Linked DNA regions of Homo sapiens. The protein of the gene in region 3 purifies or fractionates together with the protein of the main gene of each other region. This does not show direct contact. Each region holds a gene or a part of one and is shown on either strand. Other genes may lie near its edges.

What was found. The genes of interacting proteins can lie anywhere in the genome.
Region 1: the proteins of PTGES3 (region 3) and EGLN1 purify together in Homo sapiens (affinity purification with mass spectrometry; 5 studies listed by BioGRID and IntAct, with this or other methods). This does not show direct contact.
Region 2: the proteins of PTGES3 (region 3) and PPP5C purify together in Homo sapiens (affinity purification with mass spectrometry; 5 studies listed by BioGRID and IntAct, with this or other methods). This does not show direct contact.

The regions. Positions count from the first base shown.
Region 1 is NC_000001.11:231,419,273-231,427,268, reverse strand, and holds the start of EGLN1 (egl nine homolog 1), read left to right. Parts: upstream 1-4,981; 5' UTR 4,982-5,380; coding exon 5,381-6,271; intron 6,272-7,996. UniProt on the Homo sapiens protein: Cellular oxygen sensor that catalyzes, under normoxic conditions, the post-translational formation of 4-hydroxyproline in hypoxia-inducible factor (HIF) alpha proteins.
Region 2 is NC_000019.10:46,378,031-46,385,101, forward strand, and holds part of PPP5C (serine/threonine-protein phosphatase 5), read left to right. Parts: exon of another isoform or gene 1-4,494; intron 4,495-5,380; coding exon 5,381-5,446; intron 5,447-5,749; coding exon 5,750-5,848; intron 5,849-6,773; coding exon 6,774-6,879; intron 6,880-7,071. UniProt on the Homo sapiens protein: Serine/threonine-protein phosphatase that dephosphorylates a myriad of proteins involved in different signaling pathways including the kinases CSNK1E, ASK1/MAP3K5, PRKDC and RAF1, the nuclear receptors NR3C1, PPARG, ESR1 and ESR2, SMAD proteins and TAU/MAPT.
Region 3 is NC_000012.12:56,685,285-56,692,498, reverse strand, and holds the start of PTGES3 (prostaglandin E synthase 3), read left to right. Parts: upstream 1-4,214; 5' UTR 4,215-4,499; coding exon 4,500-4,501; exon of another isoform or gene 4,502-5,235; coding exon of another isoform or gene 5,236-5,249; intron 5,250-5,581; exon of another isoform or gene 5,582-5,616; coding exon of another isoform or gene 5,617-5,630; intron 5,631-7,214. UniProt on the Homo sapiens protein: Cytosolic prostaglandin synthase that catalyzes the oxidoreduction of prostaglandin endoperoxide H2 (PGH2) to prostaglandin E2 (PGE2).

The DNA.
Region 1 (7,996 bases), on a different chromosome or scaffold from region 3:
AAGTTTGGGCCATTTTGTGCCAGAAAGCAAGAAAACTATCAAAGATTAATGTGACCACATCTACAATACATAGGAACCAACTCAAATAATTTCTCACTGGCCAAAAGTGGGACGATTTGAGCATCAAAAAGAATAATTAATGCACTTCAAATATATGAAAATACATATATTCATGATCATTTTTTTAAAAAAGCTCATTAGAAGTTGCTAGAGCACTAACTCATTATTTTGAAAATTGATAAATGAAAAGAAACGTGGACCCTATCTTTCATCTACAAACTATATTTCAGGATAACCAAAGAGTTAATGAAAAATGTTATGGTAGAATTCCAGCTAATAAATTTAGGAGGAATGTTAGAATTAGAAATTCATTATTTTGCAACGTCTAATGAAATACTGGATTGAGTCACAATTAATGGATGCTAAAATAATCAGGTGATGTTTGATGAAAAACGTAATGTAGGAATCAGGCTGACACCACCTCAACCCATGAGCAATATTTCGTCATTAAAATGCAAGTATCAGACATATGTGCCTCATGATGTGATGTAATAGGAAATACACGGCAACTACCACAAAGTATGCTTACCTAAAATATAGAACCTCAATCTAATAAAAATCCTAAATCTACCTATTTGCAGAAATAGGAGTAATATCACAAGGAAGTAATCAGCTAAATCTAGAATATGGGACATTCCGTAGTACAAATGGCCTAGTTTCTACAGTAAATCTATAGTATGAAGGGTGAGATGCTGGTAAAATTGAGTAAAAGGGACTTAAGAAATATGACAATTTGTGATGGTATTAGGTGGGGCGGGGTGGAGGAAGAAACAACTAAGTGCAATGTATGGACTTGTTTAGATCTTGAATTGAATAAAGCAACTGTAAACAGAATCTTTGATATAATCGAAAAAAATTTAATACTTGGAGGATGATGGATAGTATTGAGATTTTTCTTAATTTTGTGTGATAATGGCATGGTGGATATGATTTTTGAAAGTTCTTATCAGATGTGCATATTGAAGTTGGGATATGCTTTATAATACTTTAGCAAAAAAAGTGGGGGACATAGTAGGGAGGAGGGTAGGGAAGAATTGTCTATCAACAAATGTTGATAATTGTTGAAGCTGATAACTGTTGAACTCATTAGGGCTGAGGTTGATTATACTATTATCTCTCTTTTTGCATATGTTTAACTTTTCCCACAAGAAAATGTTACAGGAAAAATTATTTAGCTTTCTCCAACCTGGGTTGGTATAAGTCACTGATTGTGACTATCCCAAAAGTTGGTTCAACATTAAGGTAATGTTTGTTAGGAAAAAAAATTAGATCGACACGTTATTTAGTATCCCAGGTTTTTGAGCATTTATTTAAAAAATTCGCTATAATGAGAGATGATTATAAATTTTTGTTATATTTCTGAGATGATCAATTTTAACAGGATTGGTGGTAATTTTTCAATCATAAACTGATAAAGTTTGATGACTGATAAATCGCCCCAATATATAGCAAATCTATTCAATTATTTTGTTTTCATAAGGGAACAACCTTGGTGGAAAGTACAGCTGTCTCCATGTACAAGGAGAAGCACATAGCTCACGTGTGCATCTGGCAGAACCCCCAGTACAGAGACAAGCAGGTGCTGTTTTCCAATGACACCTACTTGTGTGTGTCCTAATACTATAGTTAGAAAATGGCTCAGATTTTTGAGTTGCTTTTCCCAGAACTCAAAGATTGTCTTCCTGTTTATCTTGGTGGAATGCCTATGCTATACTTGTGATTTTTCTGTTCTCTGTAACCTATTAAAACAAGATTGTCACAGATGGGGAAACAAGAGGTCATTAGTTAACAATCAGATGTTCGATTTCTTGAGCAGAAAAGATACTCTGTTGTGTTTTTAAAAACATTTTTAAAGGAGAAATAGGGCTACTCCTTGGAAGGCAGATTGTTGTTCAGTGGGCTTTCCTCAAGAGTCAACACAGTCGTTTCTAAATTCATTTCCTCCTTCAATTCTGTTCTTGTAGTTAACATAAGCTTTGCCTCTTTTAGTTCTTGTCAGTTCACAGTGGCTACTTCTTTATAGCTTAACTAAATACTGCCAGAAGAGCAAAGGGAAGCCAAATAGGTGGTCAATTAGCTTTGTCTAAGTTGGTATGATATGGAGAGGAAAGCACTGTTACTTTAATTCATTCTTCAGTTTCTAGAACAGTTGCTTTTGATTAGGTTAGGGGCAGAAAAACATTTGTAATAATTAATGGCTTTGAGAGACACAAGGCTTTGTTTGCCCCAGAGTATTAGTTAACCCACCTAGTGCTCCTAATCATACAATATTAAGGATTGGGAGGGACATTCATTGCCTCACTCTCTATTTGTTTCACCTTCTGTAAAATTGGTAGAATAATAGTACCCACTTCATAGCATTGTATGATGATTAAATTGGTTAATATTTTTAAAATGCTTAGAACACAGATTGGGCACATAACAGCAAGCACCACATGTGTTTATAAGATAAATTCCTTTGTGTTGCCTTCCGTTAAAGTTTAAATAAGTAAATAAATAAATAAATACTTGCATGACATTTTGAAGTCTCTCTATAACATCTGAGTAAGTGGCGGCTGCGACAATGCTACTGGAGTTCCAGAATCGTGTTGGTGACAAGATTGTTCACCAGCATATGGTGTGGTGAAAACTCACTAATTTGGAATTAGTTCAGATTATTAAGCCTGAATAGGTGAAAATCCTGAAATCAAGGATCTTTGGAACTATTTGAAATCAGTATTTTATATTTTCCTGTTGTATTCATTAAAGTGTTGCAAGTGTTCTATTTGATGGATTAAGTATATTTAGGATATACATGTTCAATTTGTGATTTTGTATACTTAATTGGAACAAGAAAGCTAATAAAGGTTTTGATATGGACATCTATTCTTTTAAGTAAACTTCAATGAAAATATATGAGTAGAGCATATAGAGATGTAAATAATTTGTGGACACACCACAGACTGAAATAGCAAATTTAAAAGAAATTGTTGGAAGAATCAAGTGTTTGTGGAATGAGTCCTCCTAGTAAAGTTCCTGCTCTTGTGAATAATTAAGCCTCATGTATAATTACTATAGCAAAAGGAAGCCTAAGAAGTATTAGACTCTACTTGTATTTAAATTACATTTTACATAATTTATGTGTATGAAAAATGTTTTAAATGCTTATTTTCGTAAGCCATGAGATAGCTCCTTTATATTTTAAGAATTTCTGAATTAATTTGCTTGGATTTTATTAGTGCAAATGGCAGAGCTAGCAATTCCTTTTTCTGTGTTCCCATTCCATCCTATTCATCCCTCTTTTAGGAAACTCTGAACTCTGGATTGTCCTTGTTTACATACCTGCCTCCTGCATTGGACTATGTGTCTCTGAGTGTAGTATGACTAATTCATTTGTTTGTCAAGGACTCTCAATGCATTTGTTGAACAGCCTAATTAGTAATGTCTGCAACAATGACATTTTACTGTATTTAATAAAGCTCTGGGAAAGTAGGATACACATAAGACAGGTCTAGGTCTAAATTCTTTACAGAAACTTGGATTTTTAGTTCGGTTTGAAATTTGAAGATGTGAGTATATTTATCTCAGTTTCCCAAAGGACAAGCTAATTGGAATTATCATCCTCTTTCACTTGATTGGATCCCCAGAATGCCATTTACGCATGCAGCAGGATTTTATAACAGTTTTAAATTCTGTATATTTGATGAAGAGGTTTTATATTTTTGGATTCAAGCCTCTTTTTAAACTTCTACAATATGGTTTACAATAATTCCTTATATCCTGCTTTTGAAATACATATTACAACTTTTTAAGTTTGGAAGGCTATATTTCAAGGACTGAAGTTACAGTATACTCAAGTGATACACAAGCCTAGCACCCCACTTTCCACATAGTGTTCGATAAAGATTGATAAACTCGAAATCACAGACCTTTTAATTCTTAAGACAAATAGCAGCAGAAAGAAACATCTTTGGCTTATTTCTGGTAAGGTTTTTATGCTCTGTAAAACAAAGAATTGTATTCATCCGCGCAGCACAGATTCTATTAAAAATAAATGTGAGAGTCGTTAATGTAGTACTGCTCATTTACCATCAAAATTCACTTTTCAGGAATAATCCCATCAGTTTAAATTGGATATTGGAATGAGCATTGATTACATTTAACTTGGTAGCCCAAAATTTCTTCATGGGGTTTTGAACTCGGCGGGATTTCAAAGGTTTTAAAAATGAGTTTTTGATTTTTTTTAAAACCCTCAAATTTCATTACCTTTAAACTAGGTCGAAACGGGGCGCAAGAGATTGGATTAACACCATAGTAATACTTATTTTGTTCTTAACCATTTCAGGGCTTCTTGAAATAGAGGCTGTATGGTGTAATGGAAAAAACAGCCTTGGAATCTGGGAGCCTGATTCCTGGATTCAGTCCCAGTTTTGCGTGACCTTGGGCAAGTTACTTTACTTCTCTGAATTTCCGTTTCCTCCTCTGCAAAATGAGGATCGCAATAGCCACCTTGCAACCTTGACTGGAGCGAGCCTCGCACACCCCGCGCCGGCCTGGAGGAAGAGCAGCCATGATTACGCCGCCTTCGCTCCGCTACCCGCTTGCGGCTGGCGCCCTCCTCCAGCAGGTGTAGGCGCTGCCGCGCTGCCCCACGCCTTTCCGCCGCTCGCGGGCCTGCGCCTCGGCGTCCCCGAGGAGGCCGCTGCGGGCTGAGGTAGCGCACCGGCCTCTCGGCGTCCCAGTCCGGTCCCGGGCGGAGGGAAAGCGGGCGACCCACCTCCGAGGCAGAAGCCGAGGCCCGGCCCCGCCGAGTGCGGAGGAGCGCAGGCAGCCCCCGCCCCTCGGCCCTCCCCCCGGCCCTCCCGGCCCTCCCTCCGCCCCCTCCGCCCTCGCGCGCCGCCCGCCCGGGTCGCCGCGGGGCCGTGGTGTACGTGCAGAGCGCGCAGAGCGAGTGGCGCCCGTATGCCCTGCGCTCCTCCACAGCCTGGGCCGGGCCGCCCGGGACGCTGAGGCGGCGGCGGCGGCCGAGGGGGCCGGTCTTGCGCTCCCCAGGCCCGCGCGCCTGAGCCCAGGTTGCCATTCGCCGCACAGGCCCTATTCTCTCAGCCCTCGGCGGCGATGAGGCGCTGAGGCGGCTGCCGGCGCTGCGCCGGAGCTTAGGACTCGGAAGCGGCCGGGCCGAGGGCGTGGGGTGCCGGCCTCCCTGAGGCGAGGGTAGCGGGTGCATGGCGCAGTAACGGCCCCTATCTCTCTCCCCGCTCCCCAGCCTCGGGCGAGGCCGTCCGGCCGCTACCCCTCCTGCTCGGCCGCCGCAGTCGCCGTCGCCGCCGCCGCCGCCGCCATGGCCAATGACAGCGGCGGGCCCGGCGGGCCGAGCCCGAGCGAGCGAGACCGGCAGTACTGCGAGCTGTGCGGGAAGATGGAGAACCTGCTGCGCTGCAGCCGCTGCCGCAGCTCCTTCTACTGCTGCAAGGAGCACCAGCGTCAGGACTGGAAGAAGCACAAGCTCGTGTGCCAGGGCAGCGAGGGCGCCCTCGGCCACGGAGTGGGCCCACACCAGCATTCCGGCCCCGCGCCGCCGGCTGCAGTGCCGCCGCCCAGGGCCGGGGCCCGGGAGCCCAGGAAGGCAGCGGCGCGCCGGGACAACGCCTCCGGGGACGCGGCCAAGGGAAAAGTAAAGGCCAAGCCCCCGGCCGACCCAGCGGCGGCCGCGTCGCCGTGTCGTGCGGCCGCCGGCGGCCAGGGCTCGGCGGTGGCTGCCGAAGCCGAGCCCGGCAAGGAGGAGCCGCCGGCCCGCTCATCGCTGTTCCAGGAGAAGGCGAACCTGTACCCCCCAAGCAACACGCCCGGGGATGCGCTGAGCCCCGGCGGCGGCCTGCGGCCCAACGGGCAGACGAAGCCCCTGCCGGCGCTGAAGCTGGCGCTCGAGTACATCGTGCCGTGCATGAACAAGCACGGCATCTGTGTGGTGGACGACTTCCTCGGCAAGGAGACCGGACAGCAGATCGGCGACGAGGTGCGCGCCCTGCACGACACCGGGAAGTTCACGGACGGGCAGCTGGTCAGCCAGAAGAGTGACTCGTCCAAGGACATCCGAGGCGATAAGATCACCTGGATCGAGGGCAAGGAGCCCGGCTGCGAAACCATTGGGCTGCTCATGAGCAGCATGGACGACCTGATACGCCACTGTAACGGGAAGCTGGGCAGCTACAAAATCAATGGCCGGACGAAAGTAAGTGTGTGCTGCGGGTTTGTGCTGGACAGGCCCTTCTCGGCGGGCAGCCCCTGCCTGCGACTGAAACTGCCTAGGCTGAGAAGCAGCATTCCTCTATATAGAAGGGACTCGCTCTTTCTTGTGTAGCTCCCCGTAAGGAAGACGGACAGAATTTGTAGTAGCTGTTTATCTAGTTAGCCCCTTTGTATCCACTGTTTTCCACTTACTGCCCGTTCACAAACTTCTCCGGCTAATTGCATGGTTTTTTGACTCAACGTAGGCGCTTTAACTTTCCTATTTTCTTTTTTCCATTCCACTATTGGTCACAATTCAAACCTTAGTGGCGTTTTAGCCACCCAGTGAAGGGGTGTTAGAGTACCACCCAAAGCAAGTCCTGGTTCTGCATCTGCCTTGTGTTTGCATAAGCTGTTAAATTTCCTATGGTGTCTGAACCACTCATCACATTTCGATTGAGAGTCAAACGCTGTGTTCAGTTAGGAATTTGCCGGCTGACCGCAAAAAGGTACATTTAAAATAAGCATTTAGTCGAAAGACTCTGTATTCAGGAAGAGCTTGGCTACTCCCCTCCCCCTGTTATAGCTCTTATCCCTCACCCTGTTCCTACTGTTTTGAAACCCGTTACAAAAAGGGGAAAGAAGTATTTCCGTCTTCAGGCCTCTCAGTGTAGGTAGGCTACATTTTTAGCACCAGTTTCCTTTATTTGCTTTGTTAATGTAATCCTTCTGTTGAAAACTGTTTTGTAACTTCCTGGAAAACAAAACAAAACAAAACAACAACACGGAATTGGCGCAGGAGGGCTCGTTTTATCCTCCCAATTTGGTGAGATCTTTTTGTTTTCTCTTTACTATTGCGGTTTTTCCTCCACAGATTTCTTCACTTCTTACCTAGTCTATTCCCTCTTTCCTCCCTCATGATAAACAGTAGACTCTTTCGTCCTTAACCAACTCTCTTGCAGCTCTTTTTCATTTTACTTCTCAGATCTTGATCTTTTCTTTGTGGCTGCTCCCAGGCCACCCTCCTCCACCATCAGTCTCTGATTTTGTGGGTTTTGAGAGATTGACCTGGGAGAGCATCACAGTTGCATGTTTGTACACACACGCTGACTCTAACTAGTGGTTTTTCTGTATGTGTGTGTCAGATCATCTACTTTGACAGTCATTACATGTGATTCTCAGGCTGCCCGAAAGACTGAACATAGGCAGTGAGAAAGTTATAAACGTGAACATTTTGTGGGGAAAAATACAATGTGGAGTCTAATTTACCTATTGCCACTTCATTGCTGGATGAAGGCACAAGTCTTAATTTCTTGTAGTCTTAAAAAGGAACAGTTGAATAATATTAAACTGGAAGGAAAAGGGGGATCTGATGAAATTTCAGCGTTGGTCTTTCACTAGATTTTCATTGATAAAATTTTTAAGAAAGTTGTCAGGGCACAACTTTAAGAAATTGTCACATCTGAACATAAAGTCCTGAGCTCCAGAGCAGGAAAGAAATTAGTTTGAGACAATAGGGCTGTGAAGACTGACCAAAGTATATAGTTGGGACATAAGCTTAAATTGGATTCTTGAAGAAGATGATGTCCCAAATCTTTCTTGATCTGCTTTCCTTAGTTAATTTAGCTTTCCAAGTTAAGCTGAGACCTCTTTTCTCTTTTGTCTTCCTGCTTTCACCTGTCCTTAGAGAAGGGACAGCAGACAGCCTGGCTCTTAGAGCAAATGCTTC
Region 2 (7,071 bases), on a different chromosome or scaffold from region 3:
CATTATTCTCTATGCATGCTTGAGGTTTAATTTGCTTTCTTCTGGCTTCTGAAGATGGACATTAATGCTGTTAATTTTACATCTTTTCTTCCACACAAAGCATTTAAAACTAAATTTCCTTCCAGGCAGTAAGTTAGCTGCGTCCCGTGAATTTTAATACGTCGTATTTTCATTATCATTGAGTTAGAATTGTTTTCTAATTTTCTTTATGGTTTCTGATTTTATCCATAGATTATTGAGAAGGGTATTGTTTAACTCCCAAATATTTGGGGACTTCTAGATGTTACTGTTACTGATTTCTAATTTGGTCAGACAACACACTCTGGATGATTCCATTGGGGCTATTTTTAGATCTGTCTTGGCAAACATGCAGTATGTACTGGAAAATAGTGTGTATTTTGCAGTCGTTAGTCATAGGGCTCTATAAATGTCAATTAGTTCAAGATGGTTGAGACTGCTGTTAAAAATCTTTTATAGCCTATTTTTTCTAATTGCTCAATCATTTATTGAGGGGGCTGTTAAAAGCTCCGACTATACTTGTAGATTTGCCTATTTCTCCCTATAATTCTCAGTTTTTTGCTTCCTGTATTTTGAAATTTTTATTAGGCACACATTTAGGATTGTTATGCTTTCTTGATGAATTGACTCATTATAATGAAGTGACTTCAGTACTTTTTGGCTTGAAATCCCTGTTTTCTATTAAAATAGTTAAACCAGATTTTTACAGTTAATATTTGCATGCTATAACTTTTCTACCCTTTTGTATTTAACCCATTGGTATCTTTATATTTAAAATGTTTTTCTTATAAACAGCATATACTTGGGTCTTGCCTTTTTATCCAGTTGGACAATCTTTACCTTTTTTTTTTTGAGGTGGAATTTCGCTCTTGTTGCCCAGGTTGGAGTGCAATGGTGTGATCTTGGCTCACTGCAACTTCTGCCTCCTGGATTCAAGCAATTCTCCTGCCTCAGCCTCCAGAGTAGCTAGGATTACAGGCACACGCCACTATACCCAACTAATTTTTGTTTCGTTTTGTTTTTTGAGACGGAGTCTCATTCTGTCACCAGGGTAGAGTGCAGTGGCGCAATCTCAGCTCACTGCAACCTCTGTGTCCCAGATTCAAGTGATTCTCCTGCCTCAGCCTCCCGAGTAGCTGGGACTACAGGTGTGCACCACCATGCCCAGCTAACTTCTGTATTTTTAGTAGAGATGGGATTGTACCATGTTGGCCAGGATGGCCTCGATCTCTTGACCTCGTGATCCACCTGCCTCAGCCTCCCAAAGTGCTGGAATTACAGGCATGAGCCACCATGCCTGGCCTGATTTTTGTATTTTTAATAGAGACAGTGTTTCACCATGTTGGTCAAGTTGGTCTCAAACTCCTGACCTCAGATAATCCACCCACCTCGGCCTCCTAAAGTGCTGGAATTACAGGTGTCAGCCACCATTCCCAGCCAATCTTTACCTTTTAATTGGAGTGTTTAGTTCATTTATGTTTAACTATCAGCAATCATATGATTGCATTTCAATCTACTGTCTAGATGTCTCTTTTCTATATGTCCCATTTGTTTTTTTCCCCCTTGTTTCTCCTTCTTTGACTTTCTTTTGTGTGAATCAGGAATCTTTTAGCATTTCATCTGTTTTATTGAATTTTTTGTTATACTTTTGAATGTGTGTGGCGAGGGGTGGAGTGTTACATGGTTGCTCTAGAGCAGCCCTTCTCAGCTGAGGCTCTATAGAGAGAATTAAGCCCTAACTCCCTTAGGCATCCATTATATCCGCAGTGAATTAACTCCTCTCCTGTGAATCTGTGTGCTCTCCTTGGGAGAACTGAGCAGATATCACTGAAAATATTTTTTGTGGGGCTTAATCATTTCCCGGAACCCTGGATGAAAAAGGCTGCTCCAAAGATTACAATGTGTAACTTTAACTTGTCCTATTCTACTTTCAAATAATAATATGATACTTAATGGACAATATAAGAATCTTATGGCCTGGGGCAGTGGCTCATGCCTGTAATCCCAGCAGTTTCGGAGGCCGAGGCAGGTGAATCACTTGGGGTCAGGAGTTCCAGACTAGCCTGGTCAACATGGCAAAAACCCCATCTCTACAACCCTGTCTCTACTAAAAATACAAAAATTAGCCAGGCATGGTGGCACACACTTCTAATCCCAGCTGCTCGAGAGGCTGAGGCAGAAGAATCACTTGAACCCAGGAGGTGGAGGTTGCAGTGAGCCAAGGTCGTGCCACTGCACTCCAGCCTGGGCAACAGAGCGAGACTCCATCTCAAAAGAAAAAAAAAAAAAGAATCTTACAATATTGTGATTGCTTTTATTTTCTCCCAGCCTTTGTGCTCTTGTCATGCTTATGCATCTGCTATAAATACATTGTTGTCATTTCCTTAAATAGACACTAGTCTTCTAAAGAAATACACGTATGAATACACAGAAAATGTCTTTTATATTTACCCTTTCTCTTACTCCTTGTTTCTTCTTCCATATGTGAGTTTCTATCTGGTATCATGCCCCTTCTGCCTGAGTACTTTTAGCATTTCTTACAGTGCACGTCTGCTGTAGACTAATTCTCTCAGCTTTGGTCTGCCTGAAAATGTTTTTATTTTGTCTTCATTTTTAGGGGTGTCTTTGCTGGATGTAGAGTTCTAGGTTGACATTGTTTCTTTCAAGGCTTTAAATGTGTTTTTTTCCCATTGCCTTTTGACCTCCATTGTTTCTGTGAGAACTCAGCAATCATTCATATCTTTGTTCTATATAGTCTGCTTTTTTCTTCACTGGTTTTAAGATGTTGCCTTTGGGTTTTAGTAGTTTGACTATGATGGGCTTTGATGTGCTTTTTTTGAGTCTGTGGGTTAATATCTTTCATTAGTTTTGGAAAGTTCTTAGCCATTATTTCTTATATTTCTTCCCATTTCTGCTCTCCTCTCCGTCTGGAAAGCTAATAACATGCTCTTTGATACTATTTGATACTATTCCTTAGATCTTAATGACCTGAATTTTTTTAATTCTTTTCACGATTTTTCCTCTATGTATTTCAGTTCAGATAATTTCAGTTGTCCTTATGTTCACTGATTCTTTGTAACTGCTGTCAAGCCCAACAAATGAATTATTTATTTCTTACATTGTATTTTTTATTGGTAGCATTTTCATTTAGTTGTGTTTTTTTTAATAGACTTTTCATCTCTGTGTCTCATGTGTTCATGCATGTTGTCCACCTTTTCCACCAAGTCCTTTCACACATTTACCATGGTTATCTTAACGTCTCTGTCTGATAGTTCCATCATCTGGTTCATCTCTGAGTCTGCTCTGTTACCAGTTCTTCATGTGTTTTACAATTTTATTGTATGCCAGCTATTTTGTATAAAAGAACATTAGAGACTGAGGTAAATAAAGTTTTTCCTCAGAAAATGGCACACTTAGGCTGGGCACCATGGCTCAGGCCTGTAATCCTAGCACTTTGGGAGGCCAAGGTGGGCAGATCGCTTGAGCCCAGTAGTTCAAGACCAGCCTGGGCAACTTGTAGAAACCCCACCTCTACAAAAAAAATACAAAAATTAGCCAGGCATGGTGGTTGGCACCTGTAGTCCTAGCTACTTGGGAGGCTGAGTGGGGAGGATCACCTGAACCTGGGAGGTTGAGGCTGCAGTGAACTGTGTTCGAGCCACTGCACTCCAGCCTGGGTGACAGAGTGAGACCCTGTCTTAAAACAAATAAACAAATAAGAAAATGGCACACATTTCTCCTGTTGAGCCACAAGAGGGAGGGGCTGTGTGAACCTCATCTGTAGTTTAGGGGCAGCTTTTATTGGAGTTTCTTTACCACCGGCTTTAAATGTGTTCAGAGTAGAATTAGGACTTTCCCTTCAGCAGAGCTTGGGATCTTAGCCCTGGCAGAATTCCAGGGATGTCTTTATGTTTTAAAGTCGCCAGCTTTTGGAACTGTGGGAGGCCTCTGGTATTCAGCCCTGCCGCCAGACTGTGGGGCCACTGGGGTGCTCTCCGCTCTCCAGTCTCGCCCCCACTTCTGTACCTCAGGAGGTTTCTCTGCACCTCACTCCCTCGCGCCCAACCTTCCATGAAGCCCGTGTGAGGGAGTTGGCAGGGGGCAGAGGCGGGCTGTGCTGGGGCTCCCTGGAGTCCTCATCTGTCACGCCAGTCCCCACACGGTCATGAACTTCCACTCATTTCCCCTCACGCAGGGCATCCCGCCCTGCTGCCTCGCACCAGGGTGAAAGCTGTGGGCTCCTTCCCCAAGGAAGGGCTCGTCCTGTCTGCATTTTGATTAATTTAGGTCCCTTTGCATTGCCAGCTCTCAGATGGCTTTACCTTTGATTTTGTTGCTTGTTTGGCTTGTTTTCATCTTTAGGGCGAGACAGTCTTTTGTAACTTTTCTACCTTCTGACTAGAAGTGGATGCCGCCTGCATTTTCTTAACACCTTTTTCCCCAGCTTATTTTGGAAATCGTCAGACCTACAGAGAGCTGAAAGAACAGTACAGTTAACATCTGTCCACCCTTCACACAGATTCACCACTTGTGAACATTTTAATGCATTAACTTTATGTGTCTGTCTACTTATTTATGCATTTGTATGTGTATACTTTTTTCTTTTTTTTCCCCTAACCCATTTGAAAGTAAGTTGCAGCCATCATAACCTGGATCTCCCAAAAACAAAGACGTCCTCTTGTGTGACCACAGTTGAATTGTCCTACCTTAGAAATTCATCATTGATGTGATAATACTGACTAAGGTAGACAGTCCACAGGCCATCCGGAAAATCTGGAAACATTGACAAATATGCATGTCATTGTCAAGGTCATATCCAATCTGTGAAAAATAAATCATCTGCATTTCTAGACATCTATTAGTATTTTAATTCTCCCCAGCTCTCCCCAAAACATCCTTTTTAGCTGCTTTTAAAAAATTCAGCGTCCGTTGAAAGCACCAGTGTTGCCTATGACCTGCCTTTTTACCTCTTTTTACCTAGAAAGTCTCACTTCTTTTTTGGGAGACTCTTTTATGACAGTGACATTGCGCTGTGTCCAGGCCAGTTCTTTTATAAAATGTTCTACGATCTGGATTCATGCATGTATTTCCACTTGATGCTGAGTATTTTAAGATAATTCAAGAATCAGGTTTTCGTACAAAACAATCGCAATGCTTCGGCACTGCACAGGCCACAGAAGCCTGCGGCTGCCTCCGGCCCCGCCTGCTCCCGCTCCCCCAGGCCTGCCCTGCCCTTTTTCTTCTCTCCCTGCTTCTCCCTCGCCCTCAGCCCAGCAGCGTCTCATGGGCAGTCCAGGCTTTCGGGGCCAGGTTGGGCAGCAGCCCCTGCAGCCGGTCCCACTGAGTCTGCCCTGCCTTCCAGATTCTGGTACAGGTCAAAGAGGTCCTCTCCAAGCTGAGCACGCTCGTGGAAACCACACTCAAAGAGGTGCGCGTTGTGGGGCAGTGCGGGGAGGGCCAGCGGGGGTGGGCTCTCTGGCTGGGGAGGGGCCACAGAGCTCAGGAACTCACGGATCCACCTCCCTCTCTCCCTCACACCCCACCCCTGTGCCTTTCCTCCTGAATATCCCATTTCTCTCCTGGCCTCTTGGTCTTCGTTTGTGTTCCCTGCTTGTGTCTCTTGCATGATTCTTCTTGGTCTACTGTGAACTCTTACCCTTCCCCTCACCTCTGCCCCCTCCCCACGTCTCTCTCTCGGCCCGTCCCTCTCCGGTGGCCTCTTTTCTTTCAGACAGAGAAGATTACAGTATGTGGGGACACCCATGGCCAGTTCTATGACCTCCTCAACATATTCGAGCTCAACGGTTTACCCTCGGAGACCAACCCCTATGTATCCTTCTCAGCAGAGCCACCCTCTCCCCACCTCCACCCCCAGCCGCAGCCTCAGGTCTGCACAGAGTGGGAGGAGCCCTTGCCAGGAAAAGACGTGACCTTGGAAAGGAGAGGCCTGGCCATGCTGGGGCACCAAGGTGTGGGTGGAGCTGCAGGCTGGCCATGCACCCCAGGCTCCAGGCTCGGACAGGCCTGGGCCAGCACCCACCTGCTGTGTGACCTAAGCTGGTAGCTCAGTCTCTCTGGGTCTTGGCTTGTCTTCGTCTGCCTCAGGATCACATTTGAATGGCACCTGGCACTGGCCACACTTGGGTTCCATCCTGGCTTTGCCACTTCCCAGCTGTGTGACCGAAGCAGGTTACTTCACTGCTTGGTGTCACAGTTTCCCCATTTGCAAAGAGGGATAATAATATGTGCAACCTTGTTACTCAGCAGTTACTGAGAGGACAGGTTAAGAACAGGGCCTGGCCCACACCTGATGCTATCTAAGTATTTCCCCGTGTTATGGTATCTGCTCGATGAACGGCCACTTGTAGGGCCACTAGGCCTATGCATTGTTGAGTGGGAGGGCCCGTGTCCCATCTCCCCCATGGCTCCAGGCCTCTCTGAGGAGAGCTGAAGGAGGTGGACTGACTAGTCCCCGCACCTCCCCGCCACTGGCTTTCCGGGAGACAGGAGGCAGGGTCCTCAGTGCCATACTACTGAGGCTCAGCGGCCAAGCTCTGGCTGGAGCCACGGTGAGGAAAGGATTAGAAACCCAGATCCCTTGAGCCCTGCCAAGTCCTCACTCCCTGGGAGGTGCTGACAGGAGGCTTGAGGCCAGGCAGGAGCAGCCCATCTGGCCCATCTTCTGCCACCACCCCCAACCCCACCGCACCGCACCCTTCCCCTCCACGCTTGCCATGTTTTCCTCAGCAGGACAGATATTTAATGGTGACTTTGTGGACCGAGGCTCCTTCTCTGTAGAAGTGATCCTCACCCTTTTCGGCTTCAAGCTCCTGTACCCAGATCACTTTCACCTCCTTCGAGGTGAGCTGGGAAGTGACAAGGTTTGGGTTCATTGTGGGGTCCTGAGTGGGGCACTCACTCTGCAAGGATAATAGTTGCAGCTGTATTTATTTTGTGGACTCGGAGATCATGCACAGGGCGACCTTTTAAGATTGAGTATGTAGTGCACTGCACAAAAGCATCACACCAAAGGACGCGTTTACATCATAGATA
Region 3 (7,214 bases):
GGATGGTCTCAATCTCCTGACCTCGTGATCCACCCGCCTCGGCCTCCCAAAGTGCTGGGCTTACAGGCATGAGCCACCACACCTGGCCTGTTTCTGTTTTGAGACAGAGTCTCGCTCTGTCATTTCGGCTGGAGTACAGTGGCAAGTGCAGTGGTGCATTCTTGGCTCACTGCAACCTCTGCCTCCTGGGTGCAAGCCATTCTCCTGCCTCAGCCTCCCAAATAGCTGGGACTGCAGGCATGTACCACCACACCCAGCTAATTTTTGTATTTTTAGTAAATATGAGGTTTCACCATGTTGGCCAGGCTGGTCTTGACTCCTGACCTCAGATGATCTACCTGCCTCAGCCTCCCAAAGTGCTGGGATTACAGGTGTGAATCACTGCTCATGGCCACCCAGGCAGGTTTTGAACTCCTGGCCTCAAGACATCCTCCCACCTTGGCCTCCCAAAATGTTGGCATTACAGGCATGAGCCACCATGCTTGGCCTAAAACATAAGTAATTTTAAAAATGATTTTATTTGCTGGGCGCAGTGGCTCACGTCTGTAATCCCAGCACTTTGGGAGGCCGAGGCAGGCAGATCACCTGAGGTCAGGAGTTCAAGACCAGCCTGGTGAACATGGTGAAACCCCGTCTCTACTAAAAAGAGATCGTGCCACTGCATTCCAGCCTGGGCGACAGAGACTCCATCTAAAAAAAAAAAAAATTTATTTTTTCAAAGACAGGGTCTCCCTACGTTGCCCAGGCTGGACTTGAACTCTTGGGCTTAAGCAATCCTCCCACCTCAGCCTCTCAAGTAGCTGGGACTACAGGTGGCTACTAGTAATGTTTATATTAAGCTGGGTCATAATATCTCTTTTAAGGTTTATGGCCAATTTTTTTTTTTTTTTGAGACAGAGTCTCGTCACCCAGGCTGGAGTGCAGTGGGGAGATCTCGGCTCACTGCCACCTCCACCTCACAGGTTCTGCCACAGCCTCCCAAGTAGCTGGGATTACAAGCACCCACCACCAAGCCTGGCTAATTTTTGTATTTTTAGTAGAGACAGGGTTTCACCGTCTTGGCCAGGCTGGTCTTGAACTCCTGACCTCATGATCCACCCATCTCAGCCTCCCAAAGTGCTGGGATTACAGGCGTGAGCCACGCGTGCCCCGTCTTTTTTTTTTTTTTTTTTTTTTTTTGAGATGGAGTTTCGCTCTTGTCACCCAGGCTGGAGTGCAATGGCATGATCTCGGCTCACTGCAACCTCTGCCGCCCAGGTTCAAGCAATTCTGCCTCCGCCTCCCAAGTAGCTGGGATTACAGGCGCCTGCCACCACGCCCAGCTAATTTTTGTATTTTTAGTAGAGATGGGGTTTTGCCATGTTGGCCAGGCTGGTCTTGAGCTCCTGACCTCAGGTGATCCACCTGCCTTGGCCTCCCAAAGTGCTGGGATTACAGGCATGAGACACCGCGCCCGGCCCAATTTTTATTCCCTATACCCAGGAGACTTTTCTTTTTTTGAGACAGAGTTTTGCTCTTGTCGCCCAGGCTGTAGTGCAATGGCATGATCTCGGCTCACTGCAACCTCCACCTCCTGGGTTCAAGCAATTCTCCTGCCTCAGCCTCCCTGGTAGCTGGGATTCCAGGCATGCGCCACCACGCCCGGCTAATTTTGTGTTTTTTAGTAGAGATGGGGTTTCTCCATGTTGGTCAGGCTGGTCTCGAACTCCCAACCTCAGGTGATTCGCCCGCCTCGGCCTCCCAAAATGCTGGGATTACAGGCGTGAGCCACCGCGCCCGGCCTCCAGGAGACATTTTTACCATTTTGCACCCTTTCCCTTTGACTTCCTAATACAAAATTAACAACTTCTAAGTTGTTATCTTATTAGAAAGCCCCCTTATAAAATAGGATTGTTCTCACCTTCAATTAACAATTTTTTTAATTGCTCAAATCAGTCTATAAAGTTCTCTTTTGCAATTTGTGACTCTGGACATATATTTAAATTCAGTCGTTACAGGAGGATCAATTGGACCCAGAAGTCAAGACTGCAGTGACCTGTGATACCACTACTGCACTCCAGCCTGAGTTAAAGTGAGACCCTGTCTCAAAAACATAAAAAAAAAAAAAAATTTAGCCTGACATTCAGTGCCACCATTATTTGGTTGTGACCTATTTTTTCTTTTCTTTTTTTTTTTTTTTTTTTTTTTTTTACACAGAGTCTCACTGTCACCAAGCTGGAGTACAGTGGTACAATCTAGACTCGCTGCAACCTGCGTCTTCCGGGTTCAAGAGATTCTCCCACCTAAGACTCCTGAGTACCTGGGATTATAGGCACACCACGCCCAGCTAATTTTTGTATTTTTAGTAGAGATGGGGTTTTGCCATGTTGGCCAGTCTGGTCTTGAACTCCTGACCTCGTGATCCGCCCGCCTCGGCCTCCCAAAGTATTGGGATTACAGGCGTCAGCTACTGCTCCTGGCCAAATATTTTGTATTTTTAGTAGGGACGGGGGTTTCACCATGTTAGCCAAGCTGGTCTTGAACTCCTGATCTCCAGTAATCCACTGGCCTCGGCCTCCCAAAGTGTTGGGATTACAGGCGTGAACCAGTGCGCCAAGTTAACTTCCTTTTTTTTTTTTTTTTTTTTTTGAGACCCAGACTCACTCTGTCGCCCAGGCTGAAGTGCAGTGGCGCGATCTCGGCTCACTGCAACCTCCGCCTCCCGGGTTCAAGCGATTCTCCTGTCTCGCTCTCCCGAGTAGCTGGGACTAGAGGCGTGTGCCACCACACCCGGCTGATTTTTTTTTATTTTTAGTAGAGACGGGGTTTCACCATGTTAGCCAGGATGGGCTCAATCTCCTGACCTCGTGATCTGCCCGCCTCTGCCTCCCGAAGTGCTGGGATTACAGGCGTGAGCCACCGCGCCCGGCCCCTTCCCTTTTTTTTTTTTTTTTTGACACAGGGTCTCACTCTGTCGCCCAAGTTGGAGTGCTCACTGCAACCTCCGCCTCCCGGGTTCGGGGTTCGAGCTATCCTCCCGCCTCATACTAGCTAGTATTTGGCATTACAGGCAAGTGCCACCACGCCCTGCTAATTAGTATTTTTAGTAGAGATGGGGTTTCACCATGTTGGGTGGGCTGGTCCTGAACTCCTGACCTCAGGTGATCCGCCCACCGAACTTCCCAAAGTACTGGGATTATAGGCGTGAGCCACGGGCGCCCCGCCCAATTTCCCTTTTTAATGGCATTTGAGCTAGGGTCCAGGTTTCGTAGCTCCCACTACCTGTCCTGCACAACACAGACACTAAATACCTTAGTGCTTATTATGAAGCCCCGTTCTTCAGAAAGGTTTTATAGCACTTTCGTTAAACCTCCTTCCTGTTCAAAATGCAGCGCACTAGAGTATTTTTCCCCAATCCACCGTTAAGCGGCTTCTTCTTAAGCAGGACTGTTTTGGGTCTCTTGGTTGCTACCCCTACTACACCCTACTAATATGTTGCACAAAGCGACGGGGAACCCCTTCTCCCCCAAACGATGTGCGTGGAAACACACAATGTCCTACTCTCTCCATTCCCAGAAACCTAGACTCTCCCCTCAAATACCTTTCCTGGCTCATCTACAGCACTAAGGTCTCAAGGTAGGGGCAAAAGCCCGCCCCAATTGGCAAATGCTCCTCCTCCGCCAAGAACCTCGAATTTCCGCTGTCCCTGGACAGAGCCTCCAACCTTCAGAAAAATGGCGAGGTGGACCCAGGCCCTTGATTCTGAAGTGAGCCCTTTTCCACAGCACAGGCTTTTTACAGGTTTTTGTGGTGGAATGATGACTCAGTGAGCTGATTTACTCCCTCAAGAGTAACCAACGCGCCATTTCAGTTCTCCAGGATCCCGACTCCGTGTCCCTCCGCCTCAGCCTTGCCTCCCACTGTCAACGCAACCGTTTCTCAGAGAAATCGCCGAAGGCGCATGGCAGGGCAGTTGGGCCACTAACGGTTTTCTAACGCGAGAAGACAGAGCGGGAGGAGAGGCGGGAACGCGTAGGGACTAGCAGGGGGCGGAGTGGGGGTGGGGTGGCGGACGAAGGGCGGGGCCGGCGCCAGGAAGGATCGCGAAGGAGCTGGGAGGCCCCGCCCTTTCCGTAGATATCTCTAGAAAGCCGCGCCGGAGCCCAAAAACAAGGACTGCGCACGCGCGGCGGCAAGGCCCGGGCATTTTGCTGCGTCACCAGCCGCCGCCCGGCCTCACCACCCCTCGTTTGCACGCACGCACGTTCATTCTCCGTCCTCGCGCCCCTTTTCCTACACTTTCCTCTTCTCCCCGACCGGAGGAGCCGCTCTTTCCGCGCGGTGCATTCTGGGGCCCGAGGTCGAGCCCGCCGCTGCCGCCGTCGCCTGAGGGAAGCGAGAAGAGGCCGCGACCGGAGAGAAAAAGCGGAGTCGCCACCGGAGAGAAGTCGACTCCCTAGCAGCAGCCGCCGCCAGAGAGGCCCGCCCACCAGTTCGCCCGTCCCCCTGCCCCGTTCACAATGTGAGTGCGACACCCCGCCGAGGGAAGGTCGCCGAGTGAGGCCGAGGCCGCGTTGGGGGCTCCCTGGAAGCGGCCCCCTAGCCTTTCTCGCATCGGTGGTGGCAGTCGTTCCTGCCTGGGGGCGGGAGGTCCAGGATCCTTGTTCCGGTTACCGTTGGCGGGTGGAGGACATTTTTCCTCCAGATGTCTGCTTCCCCCACCCCTGAACCGTTCCTTGGCTTCCCCATGCCGGAAATCCTACTTTTACCCCTTTGGCTGTCTGGGTTACTCGCCTCTTTCGGTAACTTCACCCTAGGCCTTAAGCTCCCGGTAGCTGCTCGCCATGCGGCGCCCTGAAGCGTGAACCTTCGTGGGTCGCCTCTCGGCTGCTTGGGCGCTCCGGTTCTGTTGCTTTGTGGTCCCGGGGCCAGGCCCTGAGTCGAGTGCACCTGTGGTGGGTGCCGCCAGGTGCCTGGCGGAGCTCCTGGGAGAGCCCCACGCGGACCTCGCCGTGAGCTGCAGGTACTGCTAGGCAACTAGAAGGAAGCCATGCCCACGCCGCAACATACTTCCCTCTCCAGTGTCTGGGTTTCTTGAGTGTGGGTACTTCCAGTCCGCCTCCTAACTCCAGTCTCTTGAAAACACGGGAGGTTGCCAAAACTCAGCCGCTTCCCTGGCAGCGAGGAGGAGTTACCATTGAGCAGGTAGTTCCGCACGTGTCGACTTTGGAAAGATACGGACATTTTCTGTGTTTCATGTTCTACTTGAGGTGAGGTTTCACTATCTTGTTACAGTGTAGGATGAAATAGGTATGTAGTAGGCATTTAATTAACCTACAGTCGTCCCAAAGATCTTAAATTTGTGTGGAGGTGAATACAGATTCTATGGCAGTCTTCATTTTACGATGATAAAGGAAAGCCTTGGCGATTTTAACCGGTAAGAATTCTTGGCACTGCCGCGTACAGTGGGAACTGCCGGTTTTACAGGGTTTTTTTTTTTTTTTTTTTTTTTTTGACGGGAGGTTATTTTTCAAGGTACTAACTACGTCCTAAAAGGTATGGAGAACAATTAAGGTGGAACCTTTTTTTTCTTTTGTTTTAGACTCCATTCAGAAGAGAGAAGAGGGGAGTGACTTTATGTCTTTGGAAAAGTAATAAGGATTTGCTTGATTCAAGTCATGATACTGAGGCTGAGTATATTGGCTAGAAATCTAAAGGGATGCGTGAGGCTGAAGCGAGTTTATCACTGGGAACAAGCTTCTAGAGCACAGCATGTTAGAATTTTTGAAGGAGCCCCCTCCCCGAAAGTGATACGTAATCGGGGTTTTAAAAAATTTGAATTAGGCTGGGCGCGGTGGCTCACAACTGTGATCCCAGCACTCTGAGAGGCCGAGGCGGGCGGATCACCTGAGGTCGGGAGTTCGAGACCAGACTGACCAACATGGAGAAACCGCGTCGCTGCAAAAATACAAAAAAAATTAGCCGGGCGTGGTGGCACATGCCTGTAATCCCAGCTACTCGGGAGGCTGAGGTTAGGAGAATCGCTTGAATCTGGGAGGTGGAGGTTGCGGTGAGCCGAGATCATGCCATTGCACTCCAGCCTGGGCAACAAGAGTGAAAACCCGTCTCAAAATAAATAAATAAATTTGAATGTATATAAAATAGTTTTTGCTTTTCTATTTGAAAGCTCTCCTAAGTAATGTAGAAGGGACATCAGTCTTAACCTTTCATACTCTGAAAATCTGTAAGGGGAAATTTTTTGTCAGATGAGGCATTAAGCAGCTTTTAATAATAGAGCCAAACAACATATCTTTTCGCGAAAAGTATGTTTAAAATTGGCTTGAAGTAGAAGCATTTGATGGAGGCCACATGAGATATTTAAATAGGTAAGGAACGGCTATTACTAGGAAAGTAGATTTAAAAACTTGGGTGAAAAGTAAGTGTAAGGCCAGGCGCGGTGGCTCACGCCTGTAATCCCTATACTTGGGAGGCCGAGGCAGGCGGAACACGAGGTCAGGAGTTAGAGACCAGCCTGGCCAATATGGTGAAACCCCGTTTCTACTAAAAATACAAAAACTAGCTGGGTGTGGTGGTGCATGCCTGTAGTCCCAGCTACTCCGGAGGCTGAGGCAGGAGAATCGCTTGAACCCAGGAGGTGAAGGTTTCAGTGAGCAGAGATTGCGCCGTTGTACTCCAGCCTGGGCAATAGAGGGAGACTCCGTCTCAAAAAAAAAAAAAAAAAAAAAAAAGTAAGTGTAGCAGTAGAGAGACTATTCCAAAAAGTAGCCTCTCTAGTTAAAAAATAAAAATGCTACTTTCATGCCGGGCGGGGTGGCTCACTCCTGTAATCCCAGCACTTTGGGAGGCCGAGGCGGGTGGATCACGAGGTCAGGAGATCGAGACCATCCTGGCTAACACGGTGAAACCCCGTCTCTACTAAAAATACAAAAAATTAGCCGGGTGTGGTGGCGGGCGCCTGTGGTCCCAGCTACTTGGGAGGCTAAGGCAAGAGAATGGCTTGAACCCGGAAGGCGGAGCTTGCAGTGAGCGGCGATTGCGCCACTGTACTCCAGCCTGGGCGACACAGCGAGACTGTCTTAAAAAAAAAAAAAAAAAAAAAGAAAAGAAAAAATGCTACCTTCAAAACGAGTGATTCAATGCCACTTGAAGAGTGTTGGGCTGGGGGAAACAAGTGTTTTGAAGAGACCAGCTAAAATATTCTTTTAAAAATAATA